2 linked regions of the Homo sapiens genome follow. The protein of the gene in region 2 interacts with the protein of the main gene of each other region in a biochemical or structural test. Each region holds a gene or a part of one and is shown on either strand. Other genes may lie near its edges.

The links. Proteins that work in one complex are often made in the same cells at the same time.
Region 1: the proteins of PTX3 (region 2) and TNFAIP6 form a complex in vitro, tested with the Homo sapiens proteins (one study listed by IntAct).

The regions. Positions count from the first base shown.
Region 1 is NC_000002.12:151,355,309-151,359,066, reverse strand, and holds the start of TNFAIP6 (tumor necrosis factor-inducible gene 6 protein precursor), read right to left. Parts: upstream 1,476-3,758; 5' UTR 1,401-1,475; coding exon 1,307-1,400; intron 1-1,306. UniProt on the Homo sapiens protein: Major regulator of extracellular matrix organization during tissue remodeling. Catalyzes the transfer of a heavy chain (HC) from inter-alpha-inhibitor (I-alpha-I) complex to hyaluronan.
Region 2 is NC_000003.12:157,439,771-157,443,528, reverse strand, and holds part of PTX3 (pentraxin-related protein PTX3 precursor), read right to left. Parts: intron 1,164-3,758; coding exon 550-1,163; 3' UTR 1-549.

The sequences.
Region 1 (3,758 bases), on a different chromosome or scaffold from region 2:
CCAGGTTTATATTTTTGTAACATATGACAACACTTTAAAAGACAACTCTAAATTACTTGATTATTAGAGGGTTTGATAATATTTCAAAGTTTATCTGCCTGGATTTAATTCTTACTAGCTTTATGACATTTAAAAAAAATCCTGACAAATATGAGTGTATTTCCTATATTTGACTGTATTCAACTAAAATAAAGAGATGGGCTCATTCCTCTACTAAATTTCAGATCCCGTCTTGGCCAAATGGATCACAGTGAAATTAGTTCACTGGCTCAAGCTGAAAAAAATAGGCGGCAAGGCTGTGCATTACAAATTAGGCTTTTTAATGAAATCCGCATGGTTGCAGTTATTACCAGAGAGAAACATGCTGAAAGGGAAAATATTCTACAACTGTGCTGTTTAGAAAGCATAAAATCAAAATCTAGGTTAATTTCGCCTTCTCTTTATTTCTTTATTCTATGCAAGAATCTATGCATTTTTCCCCAAGAAATTCAATTTTTTTTTACTATTAAACACAATAATGAACATAGAGCAATATCAATTTGTATCATGAGAATTAAAGCATTGTTTAGCATACTGTAATCTAAGGGGTGTTTTGGATTTTCTGCATTTTCCTTTTTTGATCTATTGTTTATCTTCACTGTTTGGCCTGTCTCATTCCTTACATTTAACAAAACAAAATAACAAAAGAAACTTTCCTTGTCTAACAAAAGGGTCAGAAAAGTATTTATATGGATAGTAGAAACAGAAAGAATCAAAGTGGTAAGAATGCATTCAGAAGGAGAAACATTTTTCACTTTTTTCTGTACTGCAAGCTGGCTTGGTCAAAATAGTCAAAATGTTTGAAAAAACTAAGATATAGACTATAGCTCAGAGTCCATGAAGCAATTATTATAAAATTTTCGTAGACTCCAATTTACCTGTTAGGATTCTGAAATCTGATTGCAAATGCATTGACATAAAAACAGAAGACTATATTGGAGTTTCTAGTTGGTTAAAGAAATACTCCTCACTGTACTACTACATCTGCTTTGAAAAGTTTAAAAATATATTTTCATACTGAATATAAATATTAACTGCTATTTTCTACTGAACAATTCACTTTATAAAATGCTATTTTTAAATTTTAGAGGACAAGAACGCTTAAAAAAAAAAAAGCGTATGTATTCCAAAGGCTATCTTTCCTAAGCATTTTCTTTGAGAACATCAGCCTTGTACAGAATAGAAAAAGTTACTGCTTTAAATTTCCTTCTCCATGATTTAAAGAATTGACATTCTCAACAAGAGGCTCATGAGTGAAGGTTCTTACCAAGCCATATGGAGTTATGAAAAATTCCATCCTTGAATCCCCATCCTTGAGTGTCTTCCCATAGCAAGAGAAATAAGTAAATTAAGATGATCATATCGTCAGTTGTAGTGAAGTAACAGCCTGTTAGGGGCTGCTCACAAATTCTCAGAGCAGTGGCTGAAATGTGACTGAAACATCTGGTTTCCACATCTTTTAAATAGTTTTTTTCAACTGTGAGGTCAGCAAGTACTCTCCAATGGCATTTTCCGCTGTAGAGTTACACAATTATCTCAGTGTCTGAAGCAAATCCTCTGACTCATTTGCATTGGCAACCAAAACTAAGGAGATAGAATGATCATCTATGTTTTAAAATTAACTTACTAAGAACGGAGTTCATTTATTGTTAGTCACAAACACTTTTCTGTTAGAAAGTTTGTGTAACTTGATGCAGATTTAGCAGTGATTAAAAGAAAATCGAACTTCAGTAGGAATTTCAAGATAAATCCTAAATGTCTTATTTGCAGTGTCAATTATGGGATATGGGGTTAAACACTAATCTTTTATTGGTAATGTTGGACTGGCTTTTCTAAACATTGTCAAGCCTGTGTAAAAAATTTAAAACAAAAAGTATGCACAGCTTGGAGAATCCTAATTTTTCTCCAGTGATATATGACTTCCTTATTCTCTGCCTGCTTTTCTTCCAGGGTGGGGTCTGTTGCAGTCTTTGGTGTGTTATGGTCAGCAGCTAAATAAATGTATCAGCTCCCAGAAAAGTATTTCAATTTCAGAGCGTCAGGATGTTCCAGCAGCTTTGGGATGTCCTATTATAACACAGTTTTCCCAGGCCACAAATTCTTGAAGTGTTGGGAGAAAGGTGGGTAGACTAACAAAGTTAATAAAAACTTGTCCCTAGCTTCCCTAGACCACTCTAACTTTGAAGAAGACGATCAAGGTAATAGATAATAATTATTACAGTAAAGTCATCATGTCTTCAAATATCCCAAACTTTCCTCTTCCTTTGTGTAGAATCCTTGGGTAACATATCTGATAATACTCCCACTACCGCTGATGCTAATGGCATTTCCTATTGTTCATTGATAGCCATTTATTGGCAACTTTTGATTTTTTTACAAAATTGGTCATTTTTTGCTACTTAGATTCTCTACTTTTGGTCTCAAATTGCTTCCCATTCACTCCTATTATAGCATTCATTTCTCCCATGCTTTCTTAGTCCCTCCAATGATGTTGGAGTTCTTTGAAAAAGCCAACTTGCTAGACATGCTCTGGTTTGAAGTTAGCTTTGAATCCCTTAGACATCTTTGCTTTGAACATCTCAGGTGTGTTCTGGTCTCATCTCTTCTCAAAAGAGCAGTTATGGGGATGTAGGCTGAGAGTACAGAATTTATTGGATGCTCACTGAGGTATACATAAAGTTACTAGCATTGAAAATCTTTATTTTGGACTGGTGGCACATGAAAGATGAGGGAATTGTATCCAAGTTCACAGATAGGGTTAGTGAATTTAAGTTTGTTGCAAAAGAGAAAGGTATAGTTTAGACCAGGTGGGTGTGACTATGGAGAAGACAGGCATGGTTACTGAGAGCAAGATTCATAGGTAGTTGGAAGGAATAAACCATGATATTTCTTTGGAAAGTATAATTATATGCGTATTTTAAGTTTGTGGTTTAGGAAGTAAATATAACTTTAGTTGTGCAGTGCTACAGCAAAACCTTCCCATAGTCTTTCCAATTCTTTTCTTGTCACATCCTCCAGCTGTGCCCTTTCTGCATCTCTCTCAAGCACCTAATTTCCCCCTAGTTCTCATTTATCAAAAATTACTCTCAGGAAAGGGTTTGCAATTAATCTTTAGTTAGGCCAGATAACTAAGAACAGATACCCTTCTGTGTTCATTTGCATTTTAATGAAGCTCCAAGTAGAGCGAAGTGTGAATGTTCAACTTCTTTTAACACGAAAATTTAATGAGTTGCTTTGATGAATTAACCCGATCTGGGGTGGAGGATTTCTTTCTCCCCTCTCCCAACTCTCATGCAGAATATAAATATTTCCCCTTACCTCTGCATAGTGTCTGAAAATCTCATCCTCCATATCATCAAGGAAATAGAGAATAATGCCTAATGATGTAAGTTCTGATTTTGAGGGGCATTCAATAAAGGAAAGAGGAAATGGGGTTTTCATATGGAAAAGATGCAGAGGGTAATCCTGAGGACGAGAGAGAAGAAAAGAGAGAGTAGCAAAGGAAATGTTGCCTATGAACTTACCTTGGAAGTTGTCTAAGAAGCACCCTCTGCCCAGCCTCCAGCACACACCACCCAGGATAAGCCTCATGAGGAGCTGAGAGAAGATACACTGATAAAAGTTCCTTTCAGGCCGGATGCAGTGGCTCATGCCTGTAATTCCAACACTTTGGGAGGTCGAGGCAGGAGGATCACGAGGTCAGGAGTTTGAGACCAGCC
Region 2 (3,758 bases):
AAATCCCTTTTGCAATATAACTTATATGACTATCTTCTCAAAAACGTGACATTCGATTATAACACATAAACTACATTTATAGTTGTTAAGTCACCTTGTAGTATAAATATGTTTTCATCTTTTTTTTGTAATAAGGTACATACCAATAACAATGAACAATGGACAACAAATCTTATTTTGTTATTCTTCCAATGTAAAATTCATCTCTGGCCAAAACAAAATTAACCAAAGAAAAGTAAAACAATTGTCCCTCTGTTCAACAATACAGTCCTTTTTAATTATTTGAGAGTTTATCTGACAGAGACACAGCATTAAACTGAAAGCACCATGGCATAAAGTCTAGTAACATTATCCTCAAAAGCTTTTTCCAATGTCTTTCCTTCAACTGTTTATTCAGTATTTGGCCAGTACAAATAAAGATTGGTCTCAACTCTCTCTTTCATTAGTCTCAAGTGTTCCTATTATGCACTGAGTTTTCAGACCTTCCCAACTGGCATGTGTTTTAAGTGTGAGTTTCTTTCTTTGGCTTCAAGTGGAGTTTCACAACATTTATGAAACATACTGAGCTCCTCCATGTGGCTGGATCTCTGTGACTCCCCACCCAACAATATTCCCCCGGATGTGACAAGACTCTGCTCCTCCGGTCTCTCTTATCTCTTCATTGCTAAGAACACTATCCCAGATATTGAAGCCTGTGAGTCTCCCAGAGAAGGCTAATGTTTCATCAAAGCCACCACCCACACAGCAGCCATTCTTTTCTTGGCCAATCTGCAGGATTCCTCCCTCAGGAACAATGTGACCTGTGGCCATCTCAACAGTGGTAGCCGCCAGTTCACCATTTACCCACAAGGATGTGAGCCCTTCCTCTGAATTCCAGGTGCCGCACAGGTGGGTCCACCTTCCCAGGGAAACCATGGCTTCAGCAACCAGTTTGTTCTCCTCTCCACCCACCACAAACACTATGGATTGGTAGCTGAGATACAGCTGGATTTCATATGGATTCCTCTTTGTGCCATAGGAAAACAGGATGGTTTTGTTTAATACATCTGTGGCTTTGACCCAAATGCAGGCACTAAAAGACTCAAGCCTCATTGGTCTCACTGGATGCACGCTTCCAAAAATCTTCTTGGAACGCATTGGGAATAAAATAGCTGTTTCACAACCTAGAGTAGCAAGAAAATAAGAAGAATATTAAAGAAAATATAAATTAATTCAGAATTATTCTGGCATTAGTTATTTAACATAAGAATTTTAATTATTACAATTGAAAGCTATGTGAAACCCTACATTACGACTTAAGAAGCTTCCACTGTAATCTCTGCAGAGCAAAGAAAATGAGAAAAAGGAAAGCCAATTGTCTTATCCAATGAAGCATCTAAATGAAGAGAAAGCACGCAAATAGAAGAGCCAACTAGTCCAAACCCACAAAATAATAAAAGCCATAACTACCTCCCCTTCCAATTTGCATATTTTCTTTGTTACTGCTTTTTTTTAAAAAAGTTGAATCACTATCAGTTAACTTCAGACAATAATTCTATAATTTCCAAGAATTCAGAACCCAACCTGGTTCTCTCTTTTTGCCACCACCAAGTTCCTAAAATAATAAACCTGTGAAATTCAGTAGACCTAGTTCGCTCCATTTAGCCTTTACCAACATGCATTTTTCAGCAAAATTCTAGGATAGTGATGTTATTGCAGAATACATTTTTTTTTTTTTTTGAGACAGAGTCTCACTCTGTCACCCAGGCTGGATTGCAGTAGTGCGATCTCGACTCACGGCAACCTTCGCTTCCCAGGTTCAAGCGATTCTCCTGCCTCAGCTTCCGGAGTAGCTGGGACTACAGGTGCACACCACTGCGCCCAGCTAACTATTGTATTTTTTTTTTAGACACGGGGTTTCACCATGTTGGCCAGGTTGGTCTTGAACTCCTGACCTCAAGATCCGCCTGCCTCAGCCTCCCAAAATGCTGGGATTACAGGCATGAGCCACCACACCTGGCCTGCAGAATACATTTTAATACACCAAATGTTCTCAGATATTTGTAAACTTTGCAGAGTTTTTAGAAAACTACCTTTGAAAGGCAACAATGTATAATAATGATGACTAAGCTTATTGGGCATTCACTATGTATCAGATACTGTTCTAATCATTTTGTTTGTCATTTTAATCCTTATGCCAACCATAAGAGATAGTCTTTTACATTCCTATTTTACAGATGAGAAAACTTAGGTAAAAGTAACTTATCTATGTTTACATAGCTGATAAGCAGTAAAACTAGAGTTTGAATTTTTGCAGTCTGGTCACAGAGGCCACGCCCTTAATCAGCACACTACAGTGCCTCTTATTAATAGAACCCCTAGATTTCTCTAGGAGGGCTAGAATCCAGATGGTGTTACTACTAATGAGCCATGCAACTTTGGATGAGCACCATAATTTCCTCTAGGCTTTAGCGTTATCTAAAAAAGGCCCTTCCATTCTGCTCCTAATATTCTGCAAGTCTGTAAGCAGCAAGTATGTAGCACTTAAGAGCTGAATAGACCAAAAATGTGTTTAAAAATTCTACCTTGTCCACATGCTTATAATTACTATTTAAGCAGTAATTGAAAATCTTTAAGAGAAGTACATTCTTTCAAGGGGCCTGGTTGGAGAACATGTTTCTGCTAAAGAGCACTTGGGAGGGGGACTTTCAAATTTGAGGTGGAAAGCTCAGTAAGTTTCCACCATTGTCCATCTCAAGGCGACTTAGCCATTTGGGAAGCTGGAGATGCTGAAACGAAAACCTTTTACGTGTCCCTGGGAAAGAACAGGTGAGCTCTGCATCTATATACATAAATATATATATATGTATGTATACGTATATATACACACATATATACATATGGATATGTATGTATGTATACATACATATATGTATATAAATGTGTGTGTATATATATGTGTGTATGTGTATGTAGGTATTTTTTTAAAAACACCTAAATTAGGGCAGGTATAACAACCTAAAGAAGATATGCCATAAGACAGCTTTGAAAAGCAAACTCCCAGAATGGTTCCAGAATAACTGGTAAAGAGAAAGAACTTGCAGAAACCAAACATCCATGTAAAAGTGTGGTAAACTATGTCAGATTCCTACAAGTGGCTCAGGGGTAGGCTCTATCCTGAAAACATTAAACAAATATGAACCTTATCCTTTAGTGTTAGGGATAGTCAAATAAAATATTGGCATTCAGATAATCATATAAAAGTAACTACAATACTAAAACACAAAACTGGCTCTGTCATGCTTTGATACTTTTTCACTAAATAATTTGAACTTTTGAAGATTTTTTAAAATTAATTTTTAATGAGGCAGTGATTCTATTTTCAAATGAAATTGCTAGGTACATCTTTTCTTCCAGCTGTGTTAATTAAAATCAAATAAAAATCACTGAAAAAAATCACCATATCCATGGGCATTTGATATAGTCTCTATAAAGTTTCAATAAAGTAGTGTTCAATCACACCTGTAATCCCAGCACTTTGGGAGGCTGAGGCGGGTGGATCACAAGGTCAGGAGATCGAGACCATCCTGGCTAACACGGTGAAACCCCGTCTCTACTAAAAATGCAAAAAATTAGCTGGGTAAGGTGGCGAGCACCTGTAGTCCCAGCTACTCAGGAGGCTGAGGCAGGAGAATGGAGTGAACCCGGGAGGCGGAGCTTGCAGTGAGCCGAGATCGCGCCACTGCACTCCAGCCTGGGCGACAGAGCGAGATTCCGTC